4 linked regions of the Homo sapiens genome follow. The protein of the gene in region 1 interacts with the protein of each later gene in a pairwise test. Each region holds a gene or a part of one and is shown in the gene's direction. Other genes may lie near its edges. The genes, in order: MLKL, RAD18, THOC3 and PSMB1.

Region 1 (3,706 bases):
GTCTCATAAAAAAACAAAAAACAAAAAACAAAAACAAAAAAACAAAAAAAAAATACCAAACGCAGACTTTCTTCTTGATGTAATCAGAAAGACTGGAGCAAACTGAAAGGAGAGTAATTTTCCCTTTATATAATCTTGCATACCACCTTATCCCACACTTTTGGAAACACTGTCTTAGCTATTAATTTGAAATTAAGTTTGTTTCTTCTCAACTCCCTAAACTAGTGAGTTTAAGGAGAAGTATTTTTGGATGTTGTAGGGGACACTGTTAATATCCCCTCCAAATGACCTCTGATCCTTTTTACCAGCTCTATTTACCCATCCCCCTCTCGGCATGCTTTGCTGCTGAAAGTTCACAGCTGCAATCTTCAGAGGATTGCCTGTGGGCACTGGAGCCCTTTCACCCTTATAGACAGCTGAAAGTGCCCACGAGTTTTATATCCATCTGTCCCTGCCCTCCCCAACACAGTCCATAACCACTGACTGGTGTAAGTATAAAAGTCCAGTTCCTTTGCTTCCTGTGGGACACACTCTGAGGTGTAATTGTGCCCACAGGTCTCCGCGAGACCACCTGAGCCTGGGATTTCACCTGAAATCAACCTCTTGCTTGATTTCTTCTCCTTCGCCATCCTACTTCCTGTACTCCCTCAACCATTTCTCCTGGGAGCACCTTCTTTTTGTTTGTTTGGGGGACTTTTGGAGTTATTTTTTTTTTGAGACAGAGCCTCATTTTGCTGCCCAGGCTGGAGTATAGTGGCGTGATCTCGGCTCACTGCAAACTCCACCTCCTGGGTGCAAGTGATTCTCATGCTTTAGCATCCTGAATAGCTGGAATTACAGGCACATGCCACCACGCCCAGCTATTTTTTTGTATTTTTATTAATAGTAGAGATGATGTTTCACCATGTTGGCGAAGCTGGTCTCAAACTCCTGACCTCAAGTGATCCATCCACCTTGGTCTCCCAAAGTGTGGGGATTATAAGCGCAAGCCACCATGCCTGGTCAAGGGAGCACCTTCTTGATACAAATCCCTCGTGCCCAAATCATGGCTCATGATCTGCTTCTGGGAGAATCTGAGCTCAGGCAGACACCATGAGTGCAACCCAACCTGGGACGCAGGGGCTTTGTGAAACCAAAGCCCTTGTCTGGAAGTCAGCGGGACCCCAGCTTCACATTCTGCTTTGACCTGAAGGGTCCCAGCAAGGTCCAGCCACCCAGCCATGCCTCTGAGCTCTCGGATCTGCCCAGCACTTCCCAGGCAAAGCAACACAGAGGCAACGTTGTCCTTCTCTACCTAAAGGCACCCCTGATGCCCGATTGCATGCACTTCATAAGGGCTGTCATGCCCCCTTGTGCTATGAATCTCATCTCTGTTCTATACTCACGGCTTGTGATTCTCAAACCTTGCCTCTACATCCCAGTTTTTCCTGTGTAACTGTGGACAGGCACCCATGGTACTGTCCAGCCTCATCAGCCCAGTTATGATTGTCAGTCCCCCAAAGAAAGTTTGGGCAAAGGTACTTATGCTCCCCGCCTTTGGCTGTGTCAGGCTACACCATTCAGAAGCACCTGAACTCCACGGAAAAATCAGAAGCTCAAACTTCCTGGTAACTCAAGGCTACCAAGTGAAGGTGAGTGTGCCTTGCGGGGGCGCTTTGGGTCAAACCTGCATGACTGGTGCTATGAGAGGGGCACGAGTGTCTCAGAAAGGCTTGATTCTTGTCTTAGTTTATTTATTTATTTATTTAGAGACAGAGTCTCTTTCTGTCACCCAAGCTGGAGGGCAGTGAGCGAGATCGCCCCGCTGCAACCTCTGCTTCCCAGGTTCAAGCGATTCTCCTGCCTCAGCCTCCCAAGTAGCTGGGATTACAGCCATGCACCACCACTCCTGACTAATTTTTGCATTTTTAGTAGAGACAGGGTTTCACCATGTTGGCCAGCTGGTTTTGAACTCCTGGCCTCAAGTGATCCGCCCACCTGGGCCTCCCAAAGTGCTGGGATTACAGGCATGAGCCACCATGCCCGGCCTTGCCTTGGTTTTAGAACTGAGTTCAATTTTAGTTTTTTAGTTTCAGAACTAACTTCAACTTTCTGTGTGCCCACCACACAACAGTCTCCATCTATGCCGCCTGTTCTGATGACTGCCTTCCCTCACTGCCCATTTAGCAGGGATGGGCTACAAGTCATTTCCCCTTAGATGCCTGGACACCACTTCTATGTCCCTACAACATACAATGGGGGATCTTGTTAGGTTTAAGGACTCAGACTCACAGGACAGGTCTAGGCCACACTTGTCATTCAGTTACTTAGAAGGATGTCAGCAGCGCCAAACCTTTCCCTCCAGGGTGAGTCCTCGCAGTCATCCAGGAGATACTCTCTTTGTCAGAGCCACAGGTGCTGGAGAAAGAGGCTCCCATTAGGTGGGTGTGGGTCATCCAGGCTTAGAAGCCCATGACCTGCAGGAGTCAGCATCTCTGGTAACAACTCTGCAGGCATGCCTTCCAGTGTTTCTGCAAGTGACATGTGAGTTGCTGTTTTAAGAGCTGCCACATCTGGGTATGGTGGCTCACGCCTGTAATCCCAACACTTAGGGAGGCTAAGGCGGGTGGATCACCTGAGGTCAGGAGTTCAAGACTAGCCTGGCCAACATAGTGAAACACTGTCTCTACTAAAAATACAAAAAATTAGCCGGGTGTGGTGGCGCACGCCTCTAGTCCCAGCTCCTAAGGAGGCTGAGGCAGGAGAATCACTTGAACCCGGGAGGCAGAGGTTTGCAGTGAGCCGAGATCGCGTGGTTGAACTCCAGCCCGGGCAACAACAGCAAAACTCCATCTCCAAAAAAAAAGAAAAAAGAAAAGAAAAGAGCTGCTACATGGCCAGGCATGGTGGCTTATGCCTGTAATCCCCGCACTTTGGAAGGGAAGGCAGGAGGATCACTTTGAGCCCAAGAGTTCAAGACCAGCCTTGGCAACACAGTGAGACCTCCCCCTCTTCAAAAAATTTAAAAATCAGCCAGTCATGGTGGTGCACACCTGTAATTCCAGCTACTCAGGAGAGTGAGGCAGGAGGAGGATGCCTAGAGCCCAGGAGGTCAAGGCTGCAGGGAGCTATGTTTACGCCACTGTATACCCTAGCCTGGGCAACAGAATGAGACCCTGTCTCAAAAAATAAAAAAGAGGCTGGGCGCGGTGGCTCACACCTGTAATCCCAGCACTTTGGGAGGCCAAGGCAGGTGGATCATGAGGTTAGGAGATCGAGACCATCCTGGCTAACACAGTGAAACCCTGTCTCTACTAAACAATACAAAAAATTGGCCAGGCGTGGTGGCAGGTGCCTGTAGTCCCAGCTACTCCGGAGGCTGAGGCAGGAGAATGGCATGAACCCAGGAGGCAGAACTTGCAGTGAGCTGAGATTGCACCACTGCTCTCCAACCTGGGCGACAGAGTGAGACTCCGTCTCAAAAAATAAATAAATAAATAAATAAATAAGAAAAATTTGCTACAAAGCATTCCCATCAGCTGTTTACTGTGTAGTCCTGTTACCCCCTTGATCCTGCCCAGAAGCAATCTAACAATCAGCAGTCATTTTTATTTTCATCATCAGCAATGTTACTAAGAGCCATAGGTGACAGTCTACCTGTATCAGATTTCCAGGGGAACAGAGCTAAGAAGTTCACTGGAAGTCAGATTTTCATACAGAAGAGGAA
Region 2 (3,706 bases), on another chromosome or scaffold:
GCAGTTGTTAAAGGATATTTCTAGAAACTAGTTTAGCACTTGAGAAAATCTGACTGAATATTTCCCATTAAGAAAAGTTTTTTTAATTAGTTGAACCTCTCTTGAATATCATTGATGGCTTGTATGTATTTATGAACATCAATATTACTCTTTCCGGGGTTCAGAGGTGATTGCTGCTTTTAGATTGCTGTGCATGAATGAGATGTCTGAGAGGGTAAGGTATGTGAGAGAGATGAAGACAGACACAGACTGACTGAAAAGATGGATTTTGTATAGCATCATACAACCAATATAATTGTTGCTCTTTAGAACATTGAAGTGCTCATGTAAGTGAACAAGTTGCATATTCTCTCAAGTGAAAACTTAGCCTGTTTTTGTTGTGTGTCTCTGGGGAGCTCTGATGTCTGAGCCTCACTCTTCGGGGCTCTATTTTGGAGTCCTGCATTCTGAGATCTAAGGGCAAGTAGGAAGGATAACTTATTTTTTATGCCCACAGATTATTGAATGCTGTTTGTTCCCAAGAGGGAATATATCTTCTAGAAGTGTATGTAAGAGTGGAAGAAGTAAGAAAAGAATACAGACAATGTGCAAAAATAAAAGATTGTTTTAAGTTGAATTCCTGTTCCCTGGTTTGCTAGCTTGCTTGCATGCACCTCACTAGTTGAGTAATATAGTCCCTGGGTGAACCGAGTTGACTGGGGGATTGGCTCCTCTTAATGTGATTCTGGTATCTGTTTACAAGAGGAGTTCCTAGAGGTTCAGGATGGTCATCCTGGCTAAATTCTTTTTCCCTTTTCCAGATATACATTAGAGGGTGCTGTTTTGTTTTGCTAATGATAGTTTATTGACAGCCAGATGACATTAGGAGCATATTTTTAGGAATTACACTCTTGTGAAGTATGCTGTTCTCTCAGTGTAACAAAAACTTAGAACTATTTCTGAAAAAAATTTAACTGTATGAACTTGGCAAGGTTTTTTGAAGAATTTGTTATGTTCTTTCCCCATAAATTCTCTCTGTATAATCAAACCTTGACAATTGTATTTTTAGTGTGCTTTGTTGAAGACCACTTGCCTCTACAAGTGCTTGATGAGTGATGTGTGAAAGCTCTGTTTCTCTGTGAGGAAACACATGAAAGGAGCTCTGTAGTATTATTAGCACATGTAGCTTGCATGTGAGGTACCTCCTCAGTTCCTGAAAGTTAAGGACAGCACAGATGAAAATCCCAGCAGCGTTCATGATGAGTGGGAGAATCCTGGGCACTAAAGAATCTTTCACAGATATTCTTCCACTCATATTTGTAGAAAATTGGCCATACCCATATGCCACATTTTTGTAAACACTGCATCCTTCCAGCTTTTTGGGGTCTTTATTTTTATCTGCAATAAGAGACCTTGAAATCTGAGAATATGACAAAGAATGCACGGAAATGTGATGTGTATTGGATCAAATGGAAATATTCCTTATGTCTGTTTAGTTGTCCTTTTCCATAGAGAATAATTAGATTCTAGTTAACCTAGAAAAATGTTTAGAAAAATGTCCAGATAGATTCACTATCATATAATAGTAGCAAATATTGTGGTTGTCTTATTAGTTGAATCTGTAGTCTTTTTTTGGTTATACTTCTTATGTTGGTTTGTCAGTGTTCTCTGATCTATGAAATATGCAAGAATTCCTTAGTGATATGTTAATAGAGGCCTCATTAGAATTACAAGATTCTTCCTGCTTCTGGTTTTAAAATAAATTTTATTTTTAAACTAATTAATCTTGGAAAAACATGGGCTGGACAGTATAATTAGATAGCACCATTGTAGTGTTAATTCTTGCTCTCTGGCTGTCACTAGAGTTCTGGAATCTATGTGACATATACTTCAACTTTACTAAGTGCACATGGCAGTATTAAGTGTTGCAGAAGTAATAGGCATACAGAAGTTGTAGATTTTAAGGTACTCTTAAATTTATTTTTTCCTAGGACAGGAAGATAATATGACCTCAGTAACAAACCACTTTTCTCAATCAAAGCTGGACTCCCCAGAGGAATTGGAACCTGACAGAGAAGAGGATTCTTCTAGCTGTATTGATATTCAAGAAGTTCTTTCTTCATCAGAATCAGATTCATGCAATAGGTAAGAAACATGCAGTAGTTGATTATTTTAAATATCTACTTCATATGCACATGTAGATAGATAGGCAGAAATAATTAGAATGTAGCTTTGAGGCATGGCATGGTGTGTCACTCTTACATTTCAGTCCCCTTTTACTGCTGGGTCTTCTTCACAGTGATAACAAGGCAGGATTTGGGAAGGTAGTGCAGGGATCACAGGGTGAGTTTGGTCTCTACTCTATAGCCTTTATGTAGATACTTTTCCTACCGTTGGAAAAGAAAGCATGATAGACAGTGAAATTTTTGTCAAGACGATGAGTAAAGGAGATAAAAACAACTATATTGGAAAACAGAAATGATCAGAAAGACATGGCGCATAGGAGGGTTAAGAAATGAAAAATTTAACTGAGTAAATAGAATAGATGGGGAAACTTTAAAAATGAGAAGTTTGGTAATGAGTCATTTTGAAAAGATATTTTAAAAAATATATAGGGTTTATTTTACACACACACACACACACACACACACACACACGCATGCACACACACATACCAGTTTTTGTTCCGGTCTTTCACTTAATGTTATGTCATAAATGTTACGTTTCTATAGGTTGGCACAAAAGTAATTGAAACCACAGTTACTTTTGCACCAACATAATAGCTTATGTTTATAATTGTTATTTTTTAATGAGTACAGTATTCTGTTATGTCTCTGCGCTATAATTTACCAGACCCTTCAGTTTCTGTTAGAGCTCTACATTTTTCCCAGTGTTCTACTTATGTACCTGATGCTATGGTAAAGCTCTTCCTTTGTTTCTATTGAATACTTTTTTTTTCATTTTTTTGAGACGGAGTCTCACTCTGTTGCCCAGCCTGGAGTGCGGTGGTGCGATTTCGGCTCACTGCAACCTCCACCTCCCAGGTTCAAGCATTTCTCCTACCTCAGCTTCCCAAGTGGCTGGGATTACAGGCCTGTGCCACCACGCCTGGCTAATTTTTTTTTTTGTACATTTAGTAGAGACAGGGTTTCACCGTGTTGGCCAGGCTGGTCTCAAACTCCTGACCTCAAGTGATCCACCCACCTCGGCCTCCCAAAGTGCTGGAATTACAGGCATGAGCCACCGTACCTGGCCACTTATCTTTATTATTCTGATATGTAGGCATTGCCCTCTGAATGAATTGTACTGATTTAAAATGCCTACCTATCAGAATCATTGCTTATTGCCAGTGTTATTTAATGACGCTGAAACTTAGTCAAGAGAGACACCCATTTGATTCTGGTAACTGATACCATAGAAATCAGGAAAAGATTCAAACTTAGAAGGGACTACCAGTCAAGACCAAATTCCTTTAGTAGCATCATACTATGTGGTATTTATTTATCTGGTCCAACTGGGCGTTCTCAGGGTGGGGTTAATGAGTATATTACATAGATTTGGCCTTGCTGTGCTGAAGACATGCCAGTCTTGTCACCAGCTTCATACTCAACCCCTCAGATTCTGTTATCAAGGACGCTTGTAATCAAATTGAAGCTTAAGTGGTAGAGGAAATTTTCATTTTGGGGATGTTCCTTGTCTTTCACTTCATTTTTCCTTGTGGGGTTCA
Region 3 (3,143 bases), on another chromosome or scaffold:
ACCACCAATGTGATGACTTGAAACAAAAAATGTTTTTGGTTTTTGCATATACTCTTTCCATTCTTCCCCCATTAAAAAAATAGTACTATATGTTGTAAGCATGTGCAGATGTTACATATTATACCCTCTCTTTAAACCATGTATAGTTTTTGCAAGAAACTGTATATTCAGTGTTGAGCACCAGTCCTTATAAGTCTCTAGTCATTTTTTTAATTGAAGCTCATTCTCTAGTTAAGATTCCTCGGGAAGCGTTCATGGGAACATTATTCCTGGAGTTTTTATTACAACTTATTTACGTACTTCTAAAACTTACAGATTTTATAAAACGTTATTGTGCTTATTGTTTGTATCATTATATTTGAAATTCAGTTTTGCTGGATGTAAAAATCCTTGGCTCGTTTTCTCGCTTGTGTATCTTTCTTAAATATGGTACTCCATTTTCTTTTGGCATTAAGTGTTGCTGTCAGAAAGCCCAATAATCTAATTTTCTTTTTCTTTAAAGTCCACTAGTTTTGCTAGTCTCTGTCTCGATGTTGGTAACTTTGGTTCTGTAGTCTCAGGTATGTGTTGTGCTTTTTAAATAATGTAGTTCAAAATCTTTTTTTATTTCAGGAATGTTATCTTGAATGACAGTTCTTGGTGGTGGTCTATTATCTTTGCTTTTCTTCTTCATCATCTCCTATTATTGTTTCAGCACCACAGTCCTCTTCTGCAGTTTGATCGCTGTCTTTTTTCTCAGCTACCCAGAACTGAAGCCTGTGCAGTCCATCAACGCCCATCCTTCCAACTGCATCTGTATCAAGTTTGACCCCATGGGGAAGTACTTTGCCACAGGAAGTGCAGATGCTTTGGTCAGCCTCTGGGATGTGGATGAGTTAGTGTGTGTTCGGTGCTTTTCCAGGTAAGTGACTCTATCAGCACTTCCCTTGTTGGGTACATTAATTTTATTTCATCTTGAGTGACATTGTTCCCTCCTCTTACTTGGTAATTCTCTTGTCTCTTCTGTCCACTCTGTATCATAGGCTGGATTGGCCTGTAAGAACCCTCAGTTTCAGCCATGATGGGAAAATGCTGGCGTCAGCATCGGAAGATCATTTTATTGACATTGCTGAAGTGGAGACAGGTAACTTCATGAGAATCTACCGTCTTTCACCTTTGGCAGTCAGGACTTCTCTTGTGATCTCATCTCTGCATGTGACTACTTCACCAGCATGATCATGAATGAATTTGTCTCCTTTAGACAAGTATGTTTCTGTTTTGACTGTCACTGCCAGGTGGTGAGGAAGCAAAGAGTTAAGAAATAAACAGGCAGGTCTGAGGAAAGTGATTTAGAAAAATATTTTGATTTATTTAAACTTTAAACTACAGAGTAGAAGGAAGAAAAAAGCACCACTTGGGGTCCCACTCTCTAAATACCACCTGTTTTAAATGTTGTGATATATTTCTCTTTATCTTTTGCCTGTATATGAACTTGAAAAAATATTATTTAAAATTTGAGGAATTATAAAGTTTTTGCTTTAAAAACAACAGAAGCTGGAAATAGAAAAATGGGAGGAGAGTATTCATTTTGCAAAAGAATTTCCTCAGATTTGTTTTTTAATGTTGCTTTATTGTTTTTGGAAATCTTTGACACTCTTCGTAAAAAGATTAAAACTGTATAGAAAACTTCGAAGAGGAAAGTAAAGAACTTGAAATTCCACTATGTAAAGAATGCATGCCCCTGTTAGTCACGTTGTGGTGAACATTGTCCAGCATCCAGCCATGCAGATCCTTCATGTAACTGCATGTCCCTGTGACGCGGAGACACTTTCCTGCTCAGTGACCTGCTCTTGAGTTAACCCACCTGTGCTCAGAACCGGCTCTGTCCTCCACTGGCTTGTGGGCTCTCTGTGCCTGGGGGTTCTCTGTAAAATGAGGTAATAGTTGTATCTATCTCATGGGATTAGTAGGTGGATTAAACCAGTTAATACTGGTAAGTACTTAATGAATGTGTCCTTCGTTTTGAACGTATTGATTGGTTTCTCTCTATTGTTTTCTGTAGGGGACAAACTATGGGAGGTACAGTGTGAGTCTCCGACCTTCACAGTGGCGTGGCACCCCAAAAGGCCTCTGCTGGCATTTGCCTGTGATGACAAAGACGGCAAATATGACAGCAGCCGGGAAGCCGGAACTGTGAAGCTGTTTGGGCTTCCTAATGATTCTTGAGAGGAGGTTGTAGGGAGAGGAGGCCCCGGCAGAGGTCTTCCTTCATGTGGTTAGTTTGGTCTGTTCTCTCGGAGTTGGTGGGCACCCTAAATATTTGTAAGTTGGTATAAATTGTAAACGTCTCTGGTCAGGCTGCGCATTTCATTCTTTTGCTTTGTCTGTGTATTAGCTCTTTCCATTCTTTGCCCCCAGCATGAGTTAACTCGCGTGGACTCTGCAGTGCGAGTAGTGACCCCACCATACCTTGTCCTCTGGACCTCCTGTCTTCTCTGCTTCTGGGTGCATGGTAGACTTTGTGGCATTTGATACAACTTGGACAATACCTAGTTTGGAGGGAGGGGAATGGAAGGGCATGGAAGTTTTTTTAAATAATTAAAAATATATATATATAATTTTGAGAATTGAGCATTTAATAAACTGACTTTTGTTATTATGGAACTTCTAAGACTTTTAAAATTATTATGTCCTTGAGTTGCAGTTTTGTATTTTTTTTTTTTTTAATTTCAGAAAGAGAATTTAAATGTTATAATTCTGTCATTTAATGTCCCAACCAAGAAGCCTCTGAAATATAGGGACAAAGCTAATTGAATGACCAAACTAAAATTTTGGCTCTGAGCTTCCTGGTGGCAAAGTGAAGAGGGGAGTAAGTCATTTAGCTTTCTTATTGAAAAGAAAAACACTTATTGGTTCCTCATGGAAAGCAAAGCTTTATTAGTTCTTCCCTCTAAAAAAAAGGGCTTATGTTTGGAGGGTTGTTACCTAAGAGCAGTGGTTTTTCATTATATTGTAATTTTGTTTGGTGTTAAAGCAAATATTGAGGCATATAGAAATAGTGTTGGTAGAAAATTTTGGAAAAAGATAAGCAAAAAGAAAAATTACATTCCTAGCACCAAGAGGTAACTGCTATTAGAATTTTGATGTATATCCTTCCAGAAGTT
Region 4 (3,706 bases), on another chromosome or scaffold:
GCTGCCTGAATGAGTTGCTTGAATGTATGTACTATTTGAATAATTACCTGTTTGCCATTGCTTGCTGTTTATATTACCTGGAATGCCATCCTTTTCTTCTTGAGAGCTTTAGCACAAATCCCTCCTCAGTAAAAATAGTGGCTTAAGTTTCCTGAGTGCTTACGTCTGTGAGGCACCATGCCTTTAATTTCCACTATTGCATTGAAGCAGTGGTTATAGTTATCAGTCAAGCCTTGTACATTAAAATATACACACCCAAATATATATACACACCTTGTGACACAGGTACTGTTATCATCAACTTGCATTTGGAGGATTTGTCCAAGATCACATACCTAGTAAGTAGCAAGAGTGGGTCTCTGTCTCATGTAATTCCAGAGCCCAGGTGCTTAGTCATACTCCAGTGCCATAGCACTTATAGCTAACACTTACTAGAGGACCAGTTACATGTCAGGGACTGCTATAAGGGCTTACATATTTGATCCTTTGAACACCCTAATGAGGTAGCAACTGCAGTGATCTCTGTTGTATATATGATGAAATTGACGCTTTGAGAAGTAACTTACCCACAGTCTCATATCTGCGAAACGGGAAAGCCAGAATTAGAACCCAGGCGGTCTGCTTTTGGAATTCTACTGTAAGTCTCTTTGATAAGCTGTCAAATTGTACAGCCACAGAGGGAAAAATTTACTGTTTGTCCATCTATTTGTCATTATATAAGGGATTGGGTATAAAGAAATAAGCATTATATAGGCGTTATATAAGGACTTGGATATAAAGAAATGAAGCAAGAAAAAAAAATCTCATCTTCTCTAAACTCATAGAGCTTGCGTTGTAGTACCACTGTCTATACCTGATCCTCAAGGGCACAGATGTGGTATTTAGTTGTTCTGTATTAGTAGTACCTTGCGCGAGTAAGTATTTAATGTGTTGGTGATGATAATTCATTGGCTTTTCTGTTAACTCCTGCCAAGGAGACTTTGCCCTGATTTAGGCTTATTAATAATTTTTTTTTCCCAGACAACTCGTAGCCAGGCGTTCATTCTCTTCCCGCTCATCTTTCCTCTTCCCATTTGAATCATGTTTTTGTTGACATCTAGAGTATTTTATCCCATTATGTACTATGGAGCATTCTTCTATTTGTAGGGATAGGATTACCACCCTGGAGAATTAATTTTTTTCTTTTTTCCTCAGTACTATACTGGCAATTGCTGGAGAAGATTTTGCAATTGTTGCTTCTGATACTCGATTGAGTGAAGGGTTTTCAATTCATACGCGGGATAGCCCCAAATGTTACAAATTGTAAGTAAATATTTCTAAAGACATTTCACAATGCCTTTGTAATGATTTGATGTTGTGAGAGTTTCTACTTCTAAATGATTTGTTTCATGAGTTTTTAAGTTGCTGTTGGGAGCATTTTTATTAGAAAACCATTTTCTAAGTTAATGTTTCCTAATAATTTAATGTGCAGTCTTAATAATATTTGCTGTATTCAGGGTACCAAAAGTGCTTTCGGTAACCTAAATGTGTTCACCCCAGCATTTTACCATGAAAAATTTCCTGCTGTGTCTTAACATGGTGGAAGGCCAGAGAAAGAAAGAAGAGCAAGCGAACCCACTGCTGTGATAATGTCCATTCATGAAAGCTGAGCCCTAGGACCTAAACACCTGGTCCCAACTCCCAGTACCATCACAATGGCAATTAAATTTCAACATGAGTTTTGAAGGGAATATTCAAACCACAGCACCATTAATCCATTAAATGATATTTTTTTTAAATCTGCCTCCCCACACTTTTTTTTTTTACCTGAAACATTCGTTTTAGAAATATCCTAAGCAATTATGTCCACAGCTCAGTTTTAATAGGCTAGCTATGTTTTTCCTAAAACATGAAAATAAAGCCAAAACTTAAAAAAACAAAAAGCCTGCATAAATACTGAATACATACTGCAGATTGGCAGTGGTCTGTATTTACCAGTTTTGGAAATGCTTATAAATGGTCATGAATTCCTGGGTTAATTAAACTTGAATTGTAATAGGAATGGGACTTACGAGGTTTAGGTCCTTTGGATGGACCCTCCTTGTATTGTAGGAAGTAGGTACAGAAGAAAAGATACGTTGTCTTTCCTGCTCCTAGGGATGGCCCACATCTTAAAAAGCAATGAAGTTTGTTTTCGTCTTCCCAGTTCTGTTTCTCTCCACTTGCATCTTTTGATACCCCCTTTCTGCTTTCTGTTTATGGTGCTCTTGTGTTACCTTTTTTTCTCCTCAAGGACGACACTTGTACAACTTGAAAGTAGTAAATATTAGAAATAAGATTTTAAAACAACTTTATGGATACCATCCTTGTACTAGCTTTTACTCATCTTTTAAATATTGCTTTAGTTACGTTTGCTGGTGAAGTGAGCACTTTTTTTTTTTTTTTTTGTGAAACACGTCAGATATAGAGATAGAGAATAAGAACAATGCAGCATTAACGAATGCCTGTATATATCCCTCATCCCACGTCCTGTGGGTCTGACCTAGAACTAAGCTTGCCTCTTCCAAACCTGTTTCAGACTGTATTCTTTGCATGAAAACTCCCATTCCTTTGATGCACCTGGATATTTGGGAAAAGCATCTTGAAGTTCTAAGATTTCTGTCTTTCCCTGTTGGTATTGTCAACCAATCTTGTCAGTAAAGGCAGTAAAGCCTTATAGGGGATTGGACGTCTTCACCTTAGTGCAGTGAGGTTGATGGTAGGCATAGATCAGGTGATGTTAGTGATGACCCTAGAGGTGTCAGCTGCTCTCCTAGTAGGACAGGTATGGTTTGTGCGAGTCATTCGTAAGTTTCCAAGAGGAATTGTGTGGCCTCTGCAAAATATTGTTTAGGTTTCTTTATAGATTCATATCAAGATCTAGGAATTAATTTTTGAAATACACGGTTGAATTTGTATGTCTATACCAAATTTTAATCCTCTCCATACAGATGGACATTTAGGTTTTGTTTTGTTTTGGGGTGCTATTTAAATGAGTACTCACTGGTGAGTCTAGAGCATCCCTTTGCATACTTGGATAAGTATATTAACAAGATGGATTTCTAGCAATAGAATTGGTGAGAGTGGTGTGTATTTAAATTTTTAATAAATACCACCAAATTGCCCATCTAACAGGTTAATCAGTTTATACTGTTTCCACAACCTCACCAGCATTTAGTTAGTTAGGCATTTTTAGCCAGTATAATTGGTTGAAATAGTCTCTTTTTGAGATTTGGATTTCTGAGTAACATAGAGGCTCTTATGTTTATGGTGACTTAATGTCTCTTTTTTCTGTGACTTGTCTGTTCATAGAAGTTACCCATCTTTCCTTTATGTTATTGCTTTCCTTATTTGTAAGAATTTTTATAGAATTAAAATTAGACTTTGGGGGTAGATGCTACTAATATATTTTCTTAGGGTTTTAAAAAGCTATTCTTAAATTTCCCTGTAGAATTTTATGTAGTCAAATTTATGAAATTTTTCTGTGTGGCCCTTGGATTGTGTTGTTTAAATCTACCTTCACGAGGCTGGGTGCAGTGGTTCACACCTGTAATCCCAGCACTTTGGAGGCCAAGGCAGGTGGATTACCTGAGGTCAGGAGTTTGAGACCAGCCTGGCCAACATGGTGAAACCCCATCTGTACTAAAAATACAAAAATCAGCTGGGTGTGGTGGCGGGTGCCTGTAAT

The links.
Region 2: the proteins of MLKL (region 1) and RAD18 interact in a two-hybrid assay, tested with the Homo sapiens proteins (one large-scale study listed by BioGRID and IntAct).
Region 3: the proteins of MLKL (region 1) and THOC3 interact in a two-hybrid assay, tested with the Homo sapiens proteins (one large-scale study listed by BioGRID and IntAct).
Region 4: the proteins of MLKL (region 1) and PSMB1 interact in binary tests that used the Homo sapiens proteins (3 or more experiments, as listed by UniProt).

What each region holds. Positions count from the first base shown.
Region 1 is NC_000016.10:74,676,824-74,680,529, reverse strand, and holds part of MLKL (mixed lineage kinase domain-like protein), read left to right. Parts: intron 1-1,549; coding exon 1,550-1,631; intron 1,632-3,706. UniProt on the Homo sapiens protein: Pseudokinase that plays a key role in TNF-induced necroptosis, a programmed cell death process. Does not have protein kinase activity.
Region 2 is NC_000003.12:8,897,312-8,901,017, reverse strand, and holds part of RAD18 (E3 ubiquitin-protein ligase RAD18), read left to right. Parts: intron 1-1,970; coding exon 1,971-2,124; intron 2,125-3,706. UniProt on the Homo sapiens protein: E3 ubiquitin-protein ligase involved in postreplication repair of UV-damaged DNA. Postreplication repair functions in gap-filling of a daughter strand on replication of damaged DNA.
Region 3 is NC_000005.10:175,959,031-175,962,173, reverse strand, and holds the end of THOC3 (THO complex subunit 3), read left to right. Parts: intron 1-739; coding exon 740-901; intron 902-1,022; coding exon 1,023-1,123; coding exon of another isoform or gene 1,124-1,215; exon of another isoform or gene 1,216-1,984; intron 1,985-2,041; coding exon 2,042-2,205; 3' UTR 2,206-2,643; downstream 2,644-3,143. UniProt on the Homo sapiens protein: Component of the THO subcomplex of the TREX complex which is thought to couple mRNA transcription, processing and nuclear export, and which specifically associates with spliced mRNA and not with unspliced pre-mRNA.
Region 4 is NC_000006.12:170,546,602-170,550,307, reverse strand, and holds part of PSMB1 (proteasome subunit beta type-1), read left to right. Parts: intron 1-1,194; coding exon 1,195-1,302; intron 1,303-3,706. UniProt on the Homo sapiens protein: Non-catalytic component of the 20S core proteasome complex involved in the proteolytic degradation of most intracellular proteins. This complex plays numerous essential roles within the cell by associating with different regulatory particles.